Regions from separate parts of the Homo sapiens genome. Here regions 1, 2 and 3 are each linked to region 4. The links come from fine-mapping of genetic effects on gene expression. A gene starts in region 4. Each other region holds a variant in brackets. All regions are shown on one strand. Distances are between the middles of the regions.

Evidence for each region. PIP is the estimated chance that this variant, and not a neighbour inherited with it, causes the effect.
Region 1: its variant is the best candidate, but not a certain one, in a credible set for the expression of POLE in whole blood (TOPMed, PIP 0.89).
Region 2: its variant is the best candidate, but not a certain one, in a credible set for the expression of POLE in whole blood (INTERVAL, PIP 0.62).
Region 3: its variant is the best candidate, but not a certain one, in a credible set for the expression of POLE in cerebellar hemisphere (GTEx, PIP 0.51).

Annotation. Positions count from the first base shown.
Region 1 is chr12:132,657,866-132,662,992 of GRCh38, reverse strand. POLE (DNA polymerase epsilon, catalytic subunit) reads left to right here. Exons shown (of 49, transcript NM_006231.4): 24 at 1,309-1,466; 25 at 1,829-2,024; 26 at 3,484-3,698; 27 at 5,023-5,125. Among named protein-coding and RNA genes, the nearest start is that of POLE, 27 kb to the left of the region's middle. The variant G/A (reference allele first, on the strand shown) is at 2,833.
Region 2 is chr12:132,625,154-132,630,297 of GRCh38, reverse strand. POLE (DNA polymerase epsilon, catalytic subunit) reads left to right here. Exons shown (of 49, transcript NM_006231.4): 46 at 3,981-4,181; 47 at 4,528-4,653. Among named protein-coding and RNA genes, the nearest start is that of P2RX2, 9.0 kb to the right of the region's middle. The variant T/A (reference allele first, on the strand shown) is at 2,472.
Region 3 is chr12:132,454,361-132,459,504 of GRCh38, reverse strand. No RefSeq gene overlaps it. Among named protein-coding and RNA genes, the nearest start is that of MUC8, 18 kb to the left of the region's middle. The variant G/A (reference allele first, on the strand shown) is at 2,199.
Region 4 is chr12:132,685,118-132,690,261 of GRCh38, reverse strand. It overlaps POLE (DNA polymerase epsilon, catalytic subunit), which reads left to right and starts at 2,920. Exons shown (of 49, transcript NM_006231.4): 1 at 2,920-3,008. The coding sequence starts at 2,947. PXMP2 (peroxisomal membrane protein 2) reads right to left here and starts at 2,675. Exons shown (of 5, transcript NM_018663.3): 1 at 2,470-2,675. The coding sequence starts at 2,591. RefSeq lists a silencer at 2,160-3,469.

The DNA.
Region 1 (5,127 bases), 27 kb after region 4:
TTGTCTGTTTCCTTCATTCCTTCTACTGTATCAATTGGGATCCTGTAGGGAAGCGTTGCTATCCTTCTCTTCCATTTGTTCTCGTTTATTTGTCTGCTTATTGACATCAGTGTGGATTTGCGGATCAGAGTGGACATCCCAGGGTTATTGTTCATAGGACCGGAGTGGCTTCCTGCTCCACGTGTTCCCCTTGGGCCACTGGGGCCTCCTAGTTTGTGGCGTGTTCTTGGGACACGCCCTCTTCTGGTCTTTGTTTCTGGAGCACTTTCCTACTTCTTGGTACTGTAAGGTCCACCAGCCTCATCTTGTATTTTCCCTGCTCCAACCTGGAGTCAGCCAGTTCTCCGAGAAGAATGATGTAAAAACCCGAGATGGGGTGCTTGCTGTGCTCACTGTTCCTGGGAGTGTCATAGCTTCCAGTCTCTCATAGTGGAGGCAGCCAGGAAGTATGTCTCTAGTAACGCACGCACACAGAACTGTTTATTTCTGTGTCTGTCTGTCTGCATGGATGCATTTAAACACATGAGTCTGCCCCTTTCTTATTAGTGACTTCTTTCTCCTTCAGTGATAAACCTGTTTCGAATTTCTCAATATATGTGTTTGTTCAATCCTAGAGTCCATGTAAAGTAGTTTTAGAATTGCTAACAGACTTGTGTCCCATGAGAAATAATTTCACCAGCCACTGTACAGCATTTGTAGATAGTTACTTTTGTTTTCAGCCTTACCCTGTCCAGTCAGCAGAGTTCACGGGCAGCTCCTTCCTCCCCACCCTGTTGGCATGTTCTGCTGTATGTCCACAGTGCTGTTGGGCTCATTTGGCCCAGTCTGCACCCCTCTTGGGATCCCAGCACCATGGCTGGATGGCTTGTAATTTGCACACAGTGACGTTCACTCTGTAGCGTACAGCCCTGTGGGTTTGGACAAGTGCATAGTGTGTGTGTCCAGCACCACGAAGCAACACAAAACAGCTGCAACCCCTTTGTCAGCAAATCCTCTCCCTACCCCGAAACCCTGGCAACCCACAATGTGTTTTTTGTACTATAATTTTGCTTTGTCGAAAATGTCATGTAAAGGGAAGCATACGGCCTGTAGCATTTTGGGTCTGGCTTCTTGGACCTAACAGATACACCTGAGTTTCACCACTTGGTTGCATGCATCAGAACTTCCTTCCTTCCTGCTGCCAAGTCGTGTTAGTTATGTGGAAAAGCCTCGGTTTGTCAATCCATCCACTCCTGGAGGGACACCAGGTGGTTTCCAGGTTTGGGCCATCATGAGTGAAGCTGCCCCCTCTTCACTCTTGTTTCTCAGGAAGGCTTCACCAATGACCAGTACCAGGAGCTGGCTGAGCCGTCCTCACTCACCTACGTCACCCGCTCAGAGAACAGCATCTTTTTTGAGGTTGATGGGCCCTACCTTGCCATGATTCTTCCAGCCTCCAAGGAAGAAGGCAAGAAATTGAAGAAGAGGTGGGACTCTCATAGCTTTTGTGCTTTAGAAAGGACATGGATTGAGATAGATTAAATTTAGCCCAGAAAGGAGGTTGGATCAGGAGCCAGGATAGAAACAGACCTGGGTTCTTGTGATCTTACTGATTCCGTTTGCACCAGCTCTGTCTGCCCGCCTGCTGTATTCTGGCTCTGTGGCTGCAGGCCCTTCAGCCATTTTCCTTTTAGAGAAGCAGTGGCCTAAGGGAGAGAGACGTTTGCTGCCTCGTGGATGACAGGTGGAGGGTTGGAAAGGGAAGAGGCGGGCAGAGAGGATGAGGCACAGCTGGTGGCTCCCCAGCGCTCCTTGCCACTGCTGTGCTTGCCTTTTTTTTTTTTTTCAGGTATGCTGTGTTCAATGAAGACGGTTCTCTGGCTGAGCTCAAGGGCTTTGAGGTCAAACGCCGCGGGGAACTGCAGCTGATTAAGATCTTCCAATCCTCGGTGTTTGAGGCCTTCCTCAAGGGCAGCACGCTGGAAGAGGTGTATGGCTCTGTAGCCAAGGTGGCTGACTACTGGCTGGACGTGCTGTACAGCAAGGTAAAGGCCTACCCTCCACCCTCACCTGCTCTGAGGGATGAAGGATGAAGCAAGAAGGGGACCCCGTGCTTCCTGGGCTCCTGGAGACCAAGGTGACCGAAGAACACAGGGCCAGTCCTAATGAAATCCCAAGACCTCCTGAGCACAATTACCCCCTTGGAGTTCCCCTCAACTTCTGCATCCAGGGACACAACTCTGAGGGAAACGTTTTTCTAAATAGCGTGATAAGCCTGGCATGGTGATGCGTGCCTGTGGTCCCAGCTACTTGGGAGGATCACTTGAGACCAGGAAGTAGAGGCCACAGTGAGCCGTGACTGCACCACTGCACTCCAGCCTGGGATATTTGTTTATTTCTATGTTACTTTGTATTTTTTATATTTTTCAGGCTACATAACATTTTGACAGTTTACATACCTTAATTTACGTAACTAGCCCACGATTATTTACTACCAGATAGGTTTCACATTTCCATTGTTATCAATGGTGTTGCATTGAACGAGATATCTCGGTGCATATGTTTCCCAGGCACAGGCGTCTTGGGTAGAAGGAATACTGGAACACTCTGCAGTGCTTTCCTGGCTTGCTTTGCTGTGTGGGCTTCTGTTTCTTGGCATATTGTCTTGTATAGAGTGAAACACACGAGCAAGGGAGCACCAGGGTATCACACAGAATATTCATGAGCCCAGCACTCCTTACAGGATGTGGGGGGCCTGTGGTCAGGAACATGTGTGCAAAGCACAGCTCCAGCTGGATGTGGGTGCCACACTGGAACTGCTCAGGCCTCCACTGCTCAGGCCACTCTCCAGCC[G/A]GCCGGAGTTTCTCTTTCCTCTCTTCTGGCTCTTCCTGCCCCTTCTTTCTCTTCCTTTCAAGGAGAAAAACTTCCTGTCTTAGGCCGAGCAACATCCTTTTCTGCAGCCTTGGTGCTCTTCAGTAAATTCTTCTTGATATTTTGTGCACAGTTTAATAAAATAAAAGCCAAGCCAGGCGTGGTGGCTCACGCCTGTAATCCCAGCACTTGGGAGGCCTCGGCGGGCAGACCACTTGAGGTCAGGAGTTGGAAACCAGCCTGGCCAACATGGCAAAACCCTTTCTCTACTAAAAATACAAAAATTAGCTGGATGTGATGGCATGTGCCTGTAATCTCAGCTACTTGGGAGGCTGAGGCACGAGAATCTCTTGAACCCAGGAGGGGAGGTTTTAGTGAGTTGAGATTGCACCACTGCACTCCAGCCTGGGTGACAGAATGAGACTCTGTCTCAAAAAAAATATAAAAGCTAAAGTTTTGTGTGTGTGTGTATGTTTTAAAGTATTGCCACACAGGCATATTAGAGAGCTCTTGAAATTGCAGCCTTCTGCGTCTCAGGCTAGAGAAGGGCATGGCCTAGAGGAGCACAGTCCAGGGTGAGCTCAGACTCTGCCCCTTGATTTCTGCAGTGTTTTACCCATTGTCTTTCTCTAGGCAGCCAACATGCCTGACTCTGAGCTATTCGAGCTCATCTCTGAGAACCGTTCCATGTCTCGGAAGCTGGAAGATTACGGGGAGCAGAAGTCTACGTCCATCAGCACAGCAAAGCGCCTGGCCGAGTTCCTGGGAGACCAGATGGTCAAGGATGCAGGGCTGAGTTGCCGCTACATCATCTCCCGCAAGCCCGAGGGCTCCCCTGTCACGGAGAGGTGAGGGCTCCCCCCATCACGGAGAGGTGAGGGCTCCTCCCATCACGGACAGGTGAGGGCTCCCTCCGTCACGGAGAGGTGAGGGCTCCCCTCATCACAGAGAGGTGAGGGCTGCCCTGTCACGGAGAGGTAAGGGGTTCCTTACAGATTTGGGCTGTGTTTAACACCAAGTTTGGGGATGGCATAAGTGTCCATCAACCAGAAATGGATAATTGCCATTTTGTAGGGAATGAGATACACTATACCAGAGTTCAAAGGGTTGAATTGCAGCTACAGGTTACAACACTGACAGTTTGAAACCACTTTGGAGAAAAAAGCAAAAATCAGGTTGAAGGAAGACCCTTATGCCTCCGTGTATGTAAAACTTAAAAACATGGAAACTGCTCTTTTTTTTTTTTTTTTTTTTTTTTTTTGGTGGTTATATACAAATAGGACCAGTACAAATGCCTGCATGGGGTTGATGAACACCAGAATAAGGGTTGTCTTTACTTCTGTGTGAGGAGGGAATAGGTTGGGGTCACACAGGGCTTCACTCTAATCGTCTCACAAAGGAAGTCAGAGTGGCCAAGTGTTGAAGCTTGATGGAGCCGAGTGGATCATAGTGTGCGTGTCTTCTTTAGGTCTCCTTATGTTTGCAGTATTCACCACAGATGTTTCCTCCAGTGAAAGGGAAGCACTGACGGTTGCCAGTTGCTTTGCTAGTGACATGAAAACAGGCTCGTTTTTTCTAGAAAGCAGCCTGAGTCTTCTGTGTGTTACTCAGCAAGGAACATGTAGACATGGTTATGAACGTGCACGTTTGCCTGTATGCATGCACGTGGTTACTCAGAAACGCAGACATGTTTACGCACACACGCATGTCTTTGCCTATACGCATGCGCGTGGTTACTCAGAAACGTAGACATGTTTACGCACGCATGCGTTTATGTATGTGCATGCACATGGTTATGCCGTGAGAAACATGTAGACATAGTTACGAACATGCACGTGTTTGCCTGTACGCATGCACGTGGTTACTCAATGAGAAACGCAGACATGTCTACGCACACGCATGTGTTTATGTATATGCATGCCCATGGTTACGCTGTGAGGAACATGTAGACATGTTTACGTGCACACACGCACGTGTTTACACATACGCACGTGTTACTCCCCGAGGAACCTGTAGGCATGTTTGTGCATACATATGCACGCAGATGTATACATTGATGTTTGTGAACAGCTGTTACACGTCCTTATTTCCATGTTCATTTGATAAGAGTTAGGATCAGATTTTGGGTGATTTTCACTGTTACTGAGCTGTGTGCCTGTCTTCCTTACCCAGGGCCATCCCACTTGCCATTTTCCAAGCAGAGCCCACGGTGAGGAAGCACTTTCTCCGGAAATGGCTCAAGAGCTCTTCCCTTCAAGACTTTGATATTCGAGCAGT
Region 2 (5,144 bases), 60 kb after region 4:
TCGAAGCGGTTACCTGTATTTTTATAAATGGAAGGTTTGTGGGAATCTTGTCTTGAGCAAGTCTCATCTTTCCAACAGCATGTGCTCACTGTGTCTGTGTCACATGTTGGTAACTCTCAGGATATTTCAGACTTTTCCACTATTATTATATCAGCCGTGATAACCTTTGATGCTTCTATGGCAATTGTTTTGGGGCGCCATGAACCGTGCGCATAGAAGACAATGAGCTTCATCAATGTTGTGTGTGTCCTGATTGCTCCACTCACGGGCCATTCTGCCATCTCGCCCTTTCTCCTTGGGCCTCCCCAGTCCCGGTGACACAACACTATAGAAATTAGGTAAGTTAATAGCCCTGCAATGGCCTCTACGTGTTCAAGTGAAAGGAAGAGTCACACGTCTCTCACTTTACATAAAGAGCTAGAAATGGCTAAACTTAGGAAGGCATGTTGAAAGTCGAGACAGGCTGAAAGCTAGGCCTCTCACACCAGTTAGCCAAGTCAACTGCAAAGGAAAGGTTCTTGAAGGAAATTACAAGTGCTCCTCCAGTGAACACATGAAAGATAAAGAAGTGAAGCATCCTGTTGCTGATATGGAGAAAGTTGAGTCTGGATAGATCAAACCAGATATAACATCCCCTCAAGCCAGAGCCTAATCCAGAGCAAGGCTCTCACTCTGTTCAGTTCCATGAAGGCTGAGAGCTGAGGAGGCTGTAGAAGGAAAGCTTGAAGCTGGCGGAGGTTGGTTCATGGGGTTTAGGGAGAGAAGCCGTCCCAGTAACATAAAAGGGCAAATGAGGCAACAGGTGCGGGTGGAGAGGCTGCAGCGAGTTCTCCAGAAGATCTGTCTGGGATCATTGGCGAAGGTGGCTACACTGACAACATATTTTCCGTGTAGACAAAACAGCCTTCTTTTGGAAGAAGATGCCATCTAGGACTTTCATAGCTAGAGAGGAGGCCTCAGAGCCTGGCTTCAGAGGAAAGGCTGACTCTTGTTAGCGGCAGATGCAGCTGGTGACTTTAAGTCGAAGCCACTGCTCATTCAGTCTTTTAAGGCCACTACCTGCAGCTCAGAAAAAGATTCCTTCCAAAATAGTACTGCTCATTGACAGTGGACCTGGTCACCCAAGAGCTCTGATGGAGACGTACAAGGAGATGAATGTTGCTTTCATGCCTGCGGACACAGCATCCCTTCTGCAGCCCATGGATCAAGGAGCAATTTCGACTTTCAACGTTTATTATTTAAAAATATATTTCATGAGGCTATAGCTGCCATAGATAGTGATTCCCCTGATGGAACTGGGCACAGTAAATTGAAAACCTTCTAGAAAGGATTCACCATTCTGGATGCCATTAAGAACATTTGTGACTCATGGGAGAAGGGGTCAAAATATCAACATTAACAGGAGTGTGGAAGAAGTTGATTCTGACCCTCATGGATGACTTTGAGGGATTCAAGACTATTGTGGGAGGCGTGACTGCAGATGTGGTGGAAACAGCAAGGGAACTAGAATTAGAAGTGGAGCCTGAAGATGTGACCAAGTTGCTGCAATCTCAGGACAAAATTTAACAGATAAAGAGTGGCTTTTCATGGATGAGCAGTAAAGTAGTTTTTTGTTTTGTTTTGTTTTGTTTTGTTTTGTTTTGTTTTGTTTTGAGATGGAGCCTCCTTGCTCTGTCGCCCAGGCTGGAATACAGTGGTGCGGTCTTGGCTCGCTGCAACCTCCGCCTCCTGGGTTCAAGTGATTTTCCTACATCAGCCTCCCAAGTAGCTGGGATTACAGGTGCCCGCCACAATGCTCAGCTAATTTTTGTATTTTTAATAGAGACAGAGTTTCACCATATTGGTCAGGCTGGTCTCAAACTCCTGACCTCAGGTGATCCACCCGCCTTGGCCTCCCAAAGTGCTGGGATTACAGGCACAAGCCACCACGCCCAGCCCAAAAAAGTAGTTTTTTTTTTAAGATGGAGTCTCGCACTCTCGCCCAGGCTGGAGTGCAGTGGCGCGATCTTGGCTCACTGCAAGCTCCCTCCCAGGTTCACGCCATTCTCCTGCCTCAGCCTCCCGAGTAGCTGGGACTACAGGCAAGCGCCACCACACCTGGCTAATTTTCGTATTTTTAGTAGAGACAGGGTTTCACCATGTTAGCCAGGATGGTCTCGATCTCCTGACCTTGTGATCTGCCCACCTCGGCCTCCCAAAGTGCTGGGATTACAGGCGTGAGCCACCGCACCTGGCCAAAAAGTAGTTTCTTGAGATGAAAGTGAACATTGTGGAAATGACAAAGGATTGAGAATATTCCATAAACTTAGTTGCCAAAGCAGCAGCAGAATTTGAGAGGACCGACTCCAATTTTGAAAGAAGTTCTACTGTGGGTGAAATGTTATCAAACAGCATCACATGCTACAGAGTCTTTCATGGAAGGAAGAGTCAGTTGATGCAGCAAACTTCATTGTTGTCTTGTTTTAAGAAAT[T/A]GCCACAGCCACCCCAACTCTCAGCAATACCACCCTGATCAGTCAGCAGCCGTTTACATTGAGGCAAGACCCTCCACCAGCAAAACGATTGCGACTCACTGAAGGCTCAGATGATCGTTAATATTTCTGAGCAATAAAACATTTTAAAATTAAGGTACATACATTGTTTTTTAGACATAATGCTGTTATGCACTTAATAGACTACAGTATAGGGTAAACCTAAGTTTTGTCTGGGTAGAGTGACTCACACCTGTAATCCCAGCACTTTGGGAGGTCAGGGTGGGTTGACTGTTTGAGCCCAGCAGTTCAAGACCAGCCTGGGCAACATGGCAAAACCCATCTTTACAACGATTACAAACATTACCTGGGCATGGTGGCGCATGCCTGTCGTCCCAGCTACTGGGAAGGCTGAGGTAGAAGGATCAATTGAGCCCCAAGAGGTCAATGCTGCAGTGAGCCATGATTGTGCCACTGCAGTCCATTCTGGGTGACAGAGTGAAATCCTGTCCCAAAATAAAAAAAATCACATAGCTTTTTTTTTTTTTGAGATGGAGTCTCACTCTGTCACTCAGGCTGGAGTGCAGTGGTGCAATCTTGGCTAACTGCAACCTCCACCTCCTGGGTTCAAGCGATTCCCTGCTTCAGCCTCCCAGGTAGCTGGGATCACAGGTGCACCCGCCACCATGCCCAGCCAATTTTTGTATTTTTAATAGAAATGGGGTTTCACTGTGTTGGCCAGGATGGTCTTGAACTCCTGACCTCAGGCCATCCACCTGCCTTGGCCTACCAAAGTGCTGGGATTACAGGCGTGAGCCACCACAAATCACGTAACTTTTATATGTACTGAGAAAACAAGCGTGAGCCAAAAATCATGTAACTTTTATATGCACTGAGAAACCAAATAATTTGTGTGATTTGCTTTATTGTGATGTTAGTCCATTGAGGTGGTTTGAAACCGAACTTGCCATATCTCCAAGATACGCTTGTATTCAAGAACCATTTGTTGAAAAGACTATTCTTTTTCTATCGAATCATCTTTGTACCTTTTTCCATAACTTAGTAACCTTATCTATGTGAGTCTCTTTCTGGATTATGTATTCTTTTTTTCGATCTTGCATTCAATTTGCTAATATCTCGTTGCGCATTTTTGTGTCTGTGCTCAGGCTGTTATTGGTCTGTAGTTTCTTAGTACGGTCTTTGGTTCTAGTATCAGGGGATGCTGGCCTCATAGAATGGGTTGAGTGCTCTCTCTCTTCAGTGTTTTGAAAGATACTGTGTAGAATCAGCAGCATTTCTTCCTTAAATGTTTAGTAAATTCCCCAGGGAAGCCTGTCCTCACCGATGGAAAACTGCTAATGTAGAGAAGTCAGCTGAGGCGTCTAAAGGGACTAAGGAAGGGAGGAAAGGACACCAGGAAACTGTAGCCTAAGGTCCAGAGGGTTCTGGTCCAGACAGAGCAGCAGGGAGGCCCCGGGAGCTCCTTCCCGATGTGGGCTGTGGTCTCTGCAGGTGCTGTCCCTGGACACCAACATCACAAACCAGGTGAATAAGCTGAACCGAGACCTGCTTCGCCTGGTGGATGTCGGCGAGTTCTCCGAGGAGGCCCAGTTCCGAGACCCCTGCCGCTCCTACGTGCTTCCTGAGGTCATCTGCCGCAGCTGTAACTTCTGCCGCGACCTGGACCTGTGTAAAGACTCTTCCTTCTCAGAGGTGCGGCTGAGCTCCAGCGGGCCCTTCACTGTGGAGCAGAACATCCGAGGGCACTGCGGTGTCTTGAGGGCTTCTGCAGCTCCAGCTCTGTGGGTCACACCTGCTGCCCCTCTGACTCACATGGATTGGCAACAGGCCCCTTCCCAGGCCTCCCCACACCATGTTCGGAATGTTGTCCTAGGAAGGGCTCAAGTGCAGGTGGGAGGCCAGAGTGCGTGCAGCTGCACTCAGGAGACTCGCCCGTCACCAGGCGCTTCTCACAGCCCCTTCCTCTCCTGAGATCCTGCCCATGGCACTGTGGTCTGGAGGCTGGGCTGGTGACCTCTCGCACTCTTGCTCTGCCTAGGATGGGGCGGTCCTGCCTCAGTGGCTCTGCTCCAACTGTCAGGCGCCCTACGACTCCTCTGCCATCGAGATGACGCTGGTGGAAGTTCTACAGAAGAAGCTGATGGCCTTCACCCTGCAGGACCTGGTGAGTCGTGCATGCCGCCTGCCCGTGTGCCCTGGAGTCCACAGGGGGGTTTCTGTGCACTCCCGGGAGCCGGGGTGTGTGCAGGTCCTGAGGCACGCCCTGGTGTCTTCCAAGGGGCCTGCCCTGCAGACCAGTCCATGCCCTGAGCCTGATGGACTGTTCTGTCCACACTGGTTGAGCACCTGCCTTGGGTCAAGAGCTGGCCTTGTGGGTGCTTCGTTCTAGCGGAAGGAGGCAGACACTCCCAAGTGTGAAGAGAAGGAAAGGAGGAAGAGGGAGTTGCACAGCTCGGCCACAGGAAGGTCTTGCCGAGGGGCATCTGAGCAGAGGCTGGGGGACGCGCCAAGCTGCCGTGTGGTGGTGCACGGCGTTCAGGCCTGCAGGATGGAGGGAGTGAGCAGGGCCTGGAGGAGGCCTCAGGACTGGGCATCTGGGGTGGAACATCCACAGCGAGGGTGGGTGTAGGGAAGGCGCTGGCACCGTGGGATGAG
Region 3 (5,144 bases), 230 kb after region 4:
GCCGGGCCGGTTGGGTCAGCTGCACTCTACACACCCTGCCTTCCTCACCTCCTACATCTGCCTCCTAAGATCACGCCCTGATAAACCTGCTCCCAGCCCAGCTCCTTCGCAGGGCCTGTCTCCAGGAGATCCAAGCTAAGACCCGAAGTACGTGGGCGGCTTTGGGAGTTTTGCTTTCTGTGGCTCCTCCGGCCGCTGCTTCCACGGTGACGGGCCTGAGATGGGCTGGCTGCTGCCTCTGGCCTTTCCTCATGTCCGCCGCTGTCCGCGTCTGCTTTTTAAACATAGATAGGATCATGCTTTGAGTTTATAAAGGGACAAAAATGTCCTGTGCCTTCCAAAGGTTCAGCAGACACAAAAGCCTTTGTGTGCTGAGCAGTGCGGAATAGAACTAGACCACACAAAACTGGAGAAATCGGGCTGGGCGTGGTGGTGGCACCTGTGGTCCTAGCTACTCCGAAGGCTGAGGCCAGAGGACGGCTTGAGCCCAGGAATTCCAGACTGCAGTGAGCTAAGATCGCACCTGCACTGCAGCCTGGGGGACAGAGCAAGACCCTGTCTCTGAAAGAAAAAAAAAAAAAAAAAAGGAATTTCAAGAGAAATTTGATAAAACCCATCACAGGGGAGGCATCCTGCCCTCTCCGGACAGGACAGGTGCGGTGGCCATTGGCCATTCTTTGCCTACCCAGCATCTGAACCCATATCCTGTGTAGGGAATTCTCCACCTCACGGGCAGGTGGGACGCAGAGGCAGTGTCTTGCTGTTAAAGCCAAAAGTGTGATGCTCAGTTTCCTGCCCCCCAACCCCTGAGGTCCCAGGGGCCTGTCCCAGGCTCAGCTTTCGGGCACCACCACTCCTGGACAATGAGCTGGGAGCGGACGGCATGGAGGGTGCACTGTGGTGGGGTGGACCCAGCAGAGTGCAGCCGGGGCCTGAGGCCAGCACAGGGCTGAGGTGCTGCTGGCAGCGTTCATATTTGCACTCAGCCACTAACCCCAACAGATCACTCCATCCCTCGGCCTCAGTCTCCTCACCTGTAAAGGGGGAGGATAGCAGCACCTCCCTCGTGGATGCTGCAAAGACCAGATGAGTTAAAGAAGTGTGGAGAAGAGTGCCAGACACACAGGGAATGCTACGTGTGTGTGGGAAATGCTCAATCAATACTGACAGCACACAGAATGTTTGAAGGAGCGGAAACCGGATTCGATATATACCTGTATTCATAAGGCTGAGATTTCAATACGTATCTGCATCTCTCTCTACTTAAGATATGAAGCTTCACAGCCATCTGTCCACCCACCTGCCCGCCCAGCCACATCACCCGCCCATCCACTCACCCGCCCACTCGCTCACCCATCACCCACCCACCCGTCCACCCACCTGTCCACCTACCCACCCGTCCATTCACCCACCCACCCACTCACCCACCCACCCGCTCACCCGCCCGTCCACCCACCTGGTCACCTACCCACCCGTCAACTCACCCACCCACCCGCTCACCTGCCCGTCCACCCACCCGTCCACCTACCCACCCGTCCACTCACCCACCCACCCGCTCACCCACCCACCCGCTCACCTGCCTGTCCACCCACCTGTCCACCTACCCACCCGTCCACTCACCCACCCATCCGCTCACCTGCCCATCCACCCACCTGTCTACCTACCCACCCGTCCACTCATCCACCCACCCACTCACCCGCCCGTCCACCCACCCACCCACTCACCTGCCCGTCCACCCACCTGTCCACTCACCCACCCACCCGCTCACCCGCCCATCCACCCACCTGTCCACCCAATCCACTCACCCGCCCATCCACCCACCTGTCCACCCAATCCACTCATCCACCCAGCCACTCACCCGCCCGTCCACTCACCCACCCACCCACTCACTCGCCCGTCCACCCACCCACCCATCCACTCCCGCACCCACCCACCCACCCAGCCATCCACTCACCTGCCCGCCCGCCCACCCAGCCACTCACCCGCCCATCCACCCACCTGCCCGCCCGTCCACCCACCCACCCACCCACTCCCCCGCCCGTTCGAGCCCAAGGACTGGGGGGCGTGGAAGCCAACGGAGCCCTCTCTCCCGACGCCTCACCATGTGAGAGCTTCCTGTGGCTGCCGGAGCAAGTGACCGCAACGCCGCACAGATTTATCATCTCGCAGCTCTGGAGGTTGGAAGCCCAGTGTGGGGC[G/A]AGCAAGGCCGGTTCTGCTGGGGCCTGGGGAGGACCCGCCGCCTGCCTCGTCAGCCCCAGGAGTGGCCCGTCCGGGCCAGGCCCTCCCTCCGTCTTCAGAGCCTCGGCGGCCGCAGAGACTCCCTGCAGCGTCTCCCGGCCTCGTCTCCTGCCTCCTCCTCCCCATTCGAGGACCCTTGTGATTGCACTGGGCCCACGGATAATCCGGGTAATTGTGTTTTAAGGTCAGCTGATTAGCAGTTTTTCCATCTGCAGCCTTAACTCCCCCGCCCGGTAACCCGACACAGGCGCAGGCTCTGGGGATTAGCACGGCGGCCACGTCTGACCTCCATCCAGCACGAGCTCCCTTCTCCACGCAGAGGCACCTTCTTGGGTGCTGGGGCCGGGATGAGACTGGTCTGGGGCACGACTCAGCCTCATCAAGTCCTGGGGACAGCACCCAGCACCAGGAGCTCCACACCCCCCGGCCAGGTGGTCCTGCTCAGCCTGGGGTGAGGGCAGGAGCTGTCTCCTCACTCTGCTCCACAGGACCCTCAGCCACACCAGGCCTCTCGCCCCCATGGACCCCTCGCCCTGTGGGGCCCTGACCTCTTCTCTGGCAGATGAGTGCGCTGGGGTCCAGCGTCTGAACCTCACTTCTGCTGTGAGACTGTGAACACCTGTGCTTGCCGAGGGTCTGTGAGCCTCAGGTGCAGGGAGTTGCTGTCTAGGCCCCTCTGCTGAGCTCCCCGGGTCACCTCTGTGTCGGTCATCAGCTGCTCAGCTGGGCGGAGGTCTCACCTGGCCTCACTCACACATTGGGAGCTGTTGCCGGCTGCCGCACGGTTCCTCTCACGCAGCCCTGAGTCCCCAGGGCTTCCACGGCACGAAGGGAGAGTGGACGGCCTCCCGAGGTCATGCCCCATCCTAAGGTCAAAGCCAGATGCCAGGGCAGCTCTGACTGGAGGGGAAGCAGACCCCGCACTGAGCTCCATGTTCATACACACACACACAGATTCGTGCACACCCACTCACACCCGTGTTCACACACACGCGCCCACAGGCACACAAGCGCACACACATCCACACACACACGTCCAAATGCACTGCGGCAATGCACATGCATACATATCCACACGCATCACACACGTCCACACACACACGTCCAAATGCACTGATGCAATGCACATGCATACATATCCACACGCATCACACACGTCCACACACACATGCAGACACCACACGCACACGTCCACATGCACACATCCATGTTCACACACACGTTCACATGCACACACGCGCACACACATCCACACACACACGTCCAAATGCACTGCTGCAATGCACATGCATACATATCCACATGCATCACACACGTCCACACACACATACGCACACACATGCACACACACATCCACATGCACATGCATCCACTTGCATACACATGCCCACATGCACACATCCATGTTCACATGCACACACACGTTCACATGCACAGACGCACACACACACAAGTCCACACACACATGCAGACACACCACACGCACACGTCCACATGCACACATCCATGTTCACACACACACGTTCACATGCACACACACGCACACACACACAAGTTCACACACACGTCCAAATGCACTGACGCAATGCACATGCATACATATCCACACGCATCACACACGTCCACACACATACGCACACACATGCACACACACATCCACATGCACACGCATCCACTTGCATACACACGCCCACATGCACACATCCATGTTCACACACACGTTCACATGCACACACATGCACACACACACAAGTTCACACACACATGCAGACACAACACACGCACACACATCCACATGCACACACATATGTCCACACGCACACACATCCACATACATGTTCACACACGTTCACATGCACACATACACAGGGTCTGCTGTTGGCAGGCATAACTCATGGATCCTAGACCTTTCTGTGGTCCCCAGTCGGTGTCTGTCCAGGTGCTGCTGTGAGGTTGGAGCTACTGCCCCCGGCTGTTCCTGGTGGCCCTGACCCCACTCTCCTCAGCCTGGGCCTCTGACCAGGGTCAACAGCTTCCTCTCCCCTGGCAGTGTCTGCTCCTTGGAAACCAGGGGTCCCCCTGACCTGCTGCCCCTCCCAGAGGTCGTGCCCAGACCTGCATCGTCCCCACTGGACTCTGCTCTCAGAGGGTGACAGATTCCCCCATGTTTACCTGGGACCCCCACGGCCCACTTCGTCTTGGGGAACACGGGTGGCTGGTCACCCTGGCTCCCACCCCATCTGCAACCGGCTACCCCTGGCCTTCCAGTTGCTGGCTTAGCATGGAGGAGAGCCCTGGGGTGGCCGCAGCCTCCCCCAGCTGCCCCCTGCACGGCCGGGCTGCTCAGAGCTGCCTCTGGCCTCAGACTCCCCGGGAGATGCAGAACCCACTTCCTCACCCTGCCCACCCTCCAAGCTGCCTGCCTGGAAGCCAAAGGCAGCCCTCACTCTTACCACAGAGAAGAGCAAACTCAGGGAGGGACGCTGGGCAGAGGGAGGGGCTCCAAGGACACAGGGGTTGGGGGAGGGGTCTAAATAGCATCTGGTCAGAGGAGGCCGGTGCTGGTACCCTGTGCAGCCCAGTGCAGCACCTCCCCCAGAATAAAAGCCAAATCCTCCTGCGACCACACCCCAACACTCATCACATCTACCCCAACCCTAATCCCAGCACTAACCCTAAACCTGACACCACTGCCCCCTCACCCCCAACACCCATCACATCTACTCCAACCCTAAACCTAACACCCCCGTTCCCTCAACCCCCACACCCATAACATCTACCCCAACCCTAATCCTAACATCCCCGCCCCCTCACCCCCAACACCCATCACATCTACTCCAACCCTAATCCTAGCGCTAACCCTAAACCTAACTCTCTCCCCGCTCACCCGCCAACACCCATCACAT
Region 4 (5,144 bases):
TGTGGAGAGGGAGGTCATCAGAAAACAGCAGTGACCAGCAGGAGGGTGTCCCTTTCCCATAGGTGAATTAGCAGGGCCGTTCTGAGGCCATGCAGCAGATGGGCGGGGGGTAGGAATTCTTGTTAAAGCGGCTGCAATGTATAGTTCTTGTATCAAAAGGTGGAGACGGTGGACTTAAACACACAGGTAAGGACAAGTGGCTTTCCAGTATCTATGTCAACATCCTGGCTGTGATGTTATACTATAATTTGGCAGTTTGGGAGTTGGGAAGCTGTGTGGTTATGAACGGGCAACAGGACAGCCCTATCATGACGCTGTTCTGCATTTTGACTGTGGTAGTGAACACAAGAATGTACAGATGTGATAAAACTGTACAGAACAGATACAGCTACAAGAAAAATGGAGAAATCCGAATAGGATCTGTGGACTGTGTCCACGCAATGCCCTGGTCGATACTGCACTACGTTTCACAGAATGTAACCAATGGGGGACACTGGGAAGGTGTGCAAGGAATCTCTCCATGTTAGTCTTGTAACTGTTTGTGAATCTACAATTATCACAATAAAAATTTCCATAAAAAGGTGGAACAGGCCCAGTGGCTCCCTCCAGGCCTTGGTTTGTATTTGCCTTCTGAGAAGCTCTCTGGACTATAAAATCCAAAATTCCTAGCACGGACCTAGACACCTTCTCGATCAGATCCCTGGCGATTCCCTTCACATCTCCTGCCTCTTGCTCAGGGTTCACTTTCTCCACACACAGATCTTCCCTCCCTCGGGACTGAGTCCAAGCTGCACCTCTCTCCGCCTTTCTTTAACGCCGGCCTTCCCTTCAAAACCTAACAGAGACCTTTGCCCTGCTGTTCCCTGTGCCAGGAGAGCCTCTGCTCCACTTCTTTACACAGCCTGTTCAATGTCACCTTCTCAAAACACCTTCCCTGGCCGTGTCTCCACCCGCGCCGTGCGGACCCGCGCCCCGCAGACTCGCTCCCTTGGCCCTGTCTCCACACGCTCCATGTGGACCCGCTCCCCTGGCCCTGTCTTCACCCGCACCACGCAGACCCGCTCCCTTGGCCCTGTCTTTACCCGTGCCCCGCAGACCCGCTCCCCTCGCCCTGTCTTCACCCGCGCCCCGCAGACCCGCTCCCTTGGCCCTGTCTTCACCCGCGCCCCGCAGACCCGCTCCCTTGGCCCTGTCTCCACCCGCGCCATGAGGACCCGCTCCCCTGGCCCTGTCTTTACCCGCGCCCCCAAGACCCGCTCCCCTGGCGCTGTCTTCACCCGCGCCCCGCAGACTCGCTCCCTTGGCCCTGTCTCCACACGCTCCATGAGGACCCGCTCCCCTGGCCCTGTCTTCACCCGTGCCCCGCAGACCCGCTCCCCTGGCCCTGTCTTCACCCGCGCCCCCAAGACCCGCTCCCCTCGCCCTGTCTTCACCCGTGCCCCGCAGACCCGCTCCCCTGGCCCTGTCTTCACCCGCGCCCCCAAGACCCGCTCCCCTCGCCCTGTCTTCACCCGTGCCCCGCAGACCCGCTCCCCTGGCCCTGTCTTCACCCGCGCCCCCAAGACCCGCTCCCCTCGCCCTGTCTTCACCCGTGCCCCGCAGACCCGCTCCCCTGGCCCTGTCTTCACCCGCACCACGCAGACCCGCTCCCTTGGCCCTGTCTTTACCCGTGCCCCGCAGACCCGCTCCCCTCGCCCTGTCTTCACCCGCGCCCCGCAGACCCGCTCCCTTGGCCCTGTCTTCACCCGCGCCCCGCAGACCCGCTCCCTTGGCCCTGTCTCCACCCGCGCCATGAGGACCCGCTCCCCTGGCCCTGTCTTTACCCGCGCCCCCAAGACCCGCTCCCCTGGCGCTGTCTTCACCCGCGCCCCGCAGACTCGCTCCCTTGGCCCTGTCTCCACACGCTCCATGAGGACCCGCTCCCCTGGCCCTGTCTTCACCCGTGCCCCGCAGACCCGCTCCCCTGGCCCTGTCTTCACCCGCGCCCCGCAGACCCGCTCCCCTCGCCCTGTCTTCACCCGCGCCCCCAAGACCCGCTCCCCTCGCCCTGTCTTCACCCGCGCCCCGCAGACCCGCTCCCCTCGCCCTGTCTTCACCCGCGCCCCGCAGACCCGCTCCCCTCGCCCTGTCTTCACCCGCGCCTGCGGACCCGCTCCCCTTGCCGTGGCTTCCCCGGGCGCGCGGGGCCCCTGTTGGGTCCTTGGGTGGAACCTCAGCGCCGACCCCCGGGTCTGGGCGGGCCCTCCACGCGCTGGGAGGGCGGGATCCGCAAGGCGCCTCACAATCGCTGACTGCGGACGCGGGTGTCGCCGCGGGAAGTTCAGCGCCGGGTCGGAGGGCGCCCGCTCCGGGGGTTCTGACCCGGGCGCGCCCCCAGCCTGGTCCCGGCCCGGCGCTCCCGTCCAGGCCCCGCGCCGCTGCGGCCGACCTGGGGCCGGGGCGGCGTCCGATTCCCGCGCCCCCGCTCACCTGGTGGCCGCCTTGGTGAGCACCGGGTAGAGCCGCAGGAAGAGCAGGTACTGGGCGAGCGCCCGCCGCGGCAGCGCCCCGAGCCCGGCTTCGGCCCGCAGCCTGGACGCGGCCGGCGCCATCGCCTCCCCAGCGCCGTGCCGCCGGGGGCACCGACCCCACCTCAGGCTGGCCGGGCGCGGAGCCCGAGGCGCCGAGAGCGGAGTGGGGACCGCCTGACATTTCCGGCCCCACCGCGGCCCGCAGCGCCGCCCGGTCCCAACCCCACGGTGCGCCGCGCGCGCCTACCACACACTTTTCCCCGGTCCCTGCCGGCCACCTCCCCCGCCGGGCGCCGGCGCCAATTGGAGCGCCTCGGGGGGCGGGGGAGGGGCGGAGCGCGCCTCTTGATGGACGGCGGCATTTCCGGCTCTCGCGAGTCTGGGTGGGAGCGCGCCAAATTTCTCCCCTGAAGCAGAGGTGGTAGCCAACGGCTCCATGTCTCTGAGGAGCGGCGGGCGGCGGCGCGCGGACCCAGGCGCGGATGGCGAGGCCAGCAGGTGAGGGGCGCCCTCCTGAGGCTCTCGGGCCGGCCCTCCGGAGGGTGCCATGGGGCCGTCCTCGGCTGGCGCCGCCGAGGCGGGAGGGAGGCCCGGTTCCCGCAGCCGCCCGCACTCGCCGCGCCTGACTGGGGTAGGGCGGCGCGCCCCGACCGCCGACGGAGGGGCTCGGGGCGGGCGGAGGCGCTACGGGCGCGGCTTCTTTGCGGGGAAACGAGGCGGGCCGCGCGGCCTTTCCCTGCTCGGCTCTTTCTGAGGTTTTTCGGGCCTCGCCTTCCGCGCAGCTGCGTTTGGGACCTGCCGCGCGGCGGGGGCGATGAGAGCGGCGGGACCCGGGCCAGGCCCTGCGGGGTGGACGCGCGGCTGGGGAGGGTGCGGGGAGGGGCGGGGCCGGGGACCCTGCCTGGGGGCCTAGCGCTGGGGGAGGCCGAGGCGGGCGGATCGCTGGAGCCCAGGATCCTGTTCTAGATCAGCCTGGGCTACAGAGAGAGACCTCGTCTCCTCTGTTTTATTTTTTTGGGCAGGGAGTCCCGCTCTGTCGCCCAGGCTGGAGTGCAGTGGCGCGATCTCGGCTCACTGCAACCTCTGCTTCCCGGGTTCAAGCGATCCCGCTGCCTCAGCCTCCCGAGTAGCTGGAATTACAGGCGCCCGCCACCAGGCCCGGCTAGTTTTTGTATTTTTAGTAGAGACCGGGTTTCACCATGTTGGCCAGGCTGGTCTCGAACTCCTGACCTCAGGTGATCCGCCCGCCTCGGCCTTCCAAAGTGCTGGGATTACAGACGTGAGACTCCGCGCCCGGCCCTTCTCTTGTAAAAACAAGAAAAATTAGACAGGCTGGTGGTGCGCGCCCGAGGTCCCAGCTATTAATACTCCCGAATCCGAGCCGGAGGTTCACCTGAGCCCGGCAGGTCAAGGCTGCTGTGAGCCGGGATCGCGCCACCGCACTCCAGCCTGGGCGACGGAGCCAGACCCAGTCTCAAAAAAAATAGAGCAAGGATAAGACGCGGCTGCTTGGTGGCCAGAGCAAACGGTAAACATGACCGGAGGACTGGCCTGCCATAAGCAGAAAACGGATGAGGCCCGGCGCGGTGGCTCACACCTGTAATCCCAGCACTTTGGGAGGCCGAGGCAGGAGGATCACCTGAGGTCAGGAGTTCGAGACCAGCCTGACCAACATGGAGAAATCCCGTCTCCACTAAAAAAATACAAAATTAGCGGGGCGTGGTGGCGCATGCCTGTAATCCCAGCTACGCAGGAGGCTGAGGCAGGAGAATCACTTGAACGCGGCAGGCGGAGGTTGCGGTGAACCGAGATCGCGCCATTGCACTCCAGGCTGGGCAACAAAGAATGAAACTCTGTCTCAAAAAAAAAAAAATAGAAAAAACGTGTGAGAACGTGAAGCTTTTTACAGACACTTAGCTGAACAAAATTCTTCCCAGAGGAGAAACCAAGTGGTAAGGATCCCTAACTGCTGTTGTGCTCATCGCTGTCTGTCCATATCAGGCAAGCCCTAGAGAGGCAGGTACCCTTAGGGTCTACATGGTGTGTTGGAACTTGGAGCTTAGAGACGGTTACTGACTGCCCTGCTTCAGGACACAGGACTGCACTCACGTGCTCCACTCCACTGCCCTGCCCCAAGCTCAGTGATGGCCTCCAGGCAGGGGGAAGGCTGCTGCTGGGATAAGTACAAGTGATGGCTTTTACCTTACATGCTTTATGTGGGTTACCTCATCTCATCCTTAAAACAGTCCTGGGAGGTGAGTGTGCCCCAGGAGGCAGTGGGTGCTGTTTGCCTGCGTTTCTTCTTGTGTGAAATGGGGACACCAGTGGCCTCCCTCGTAGGGGTTGTCATGAAAACTGAATGAGAGCATATGTGGAGTACTGGGACGGTGTGATACAGTAACCAGTCAATGGTAGCTCTCTGTGAATGAGAGCCTGTGTGGAGTACTGGGACAGTGTGATACAGTAACCAGTCAATGGTAGCTCTCTGTGAATGAGAGCCTGTGTGTAGTACTGGGACGGTGTGATACAGTAACCAGTCAATGGTAGCTCTGTGAATGAAAGCCTGTGTGGAGTACTGGGACGGTGTGATATAGTAACCAGTCAATGGTAGCTCTCTGTGAATGAGAGCCTGTG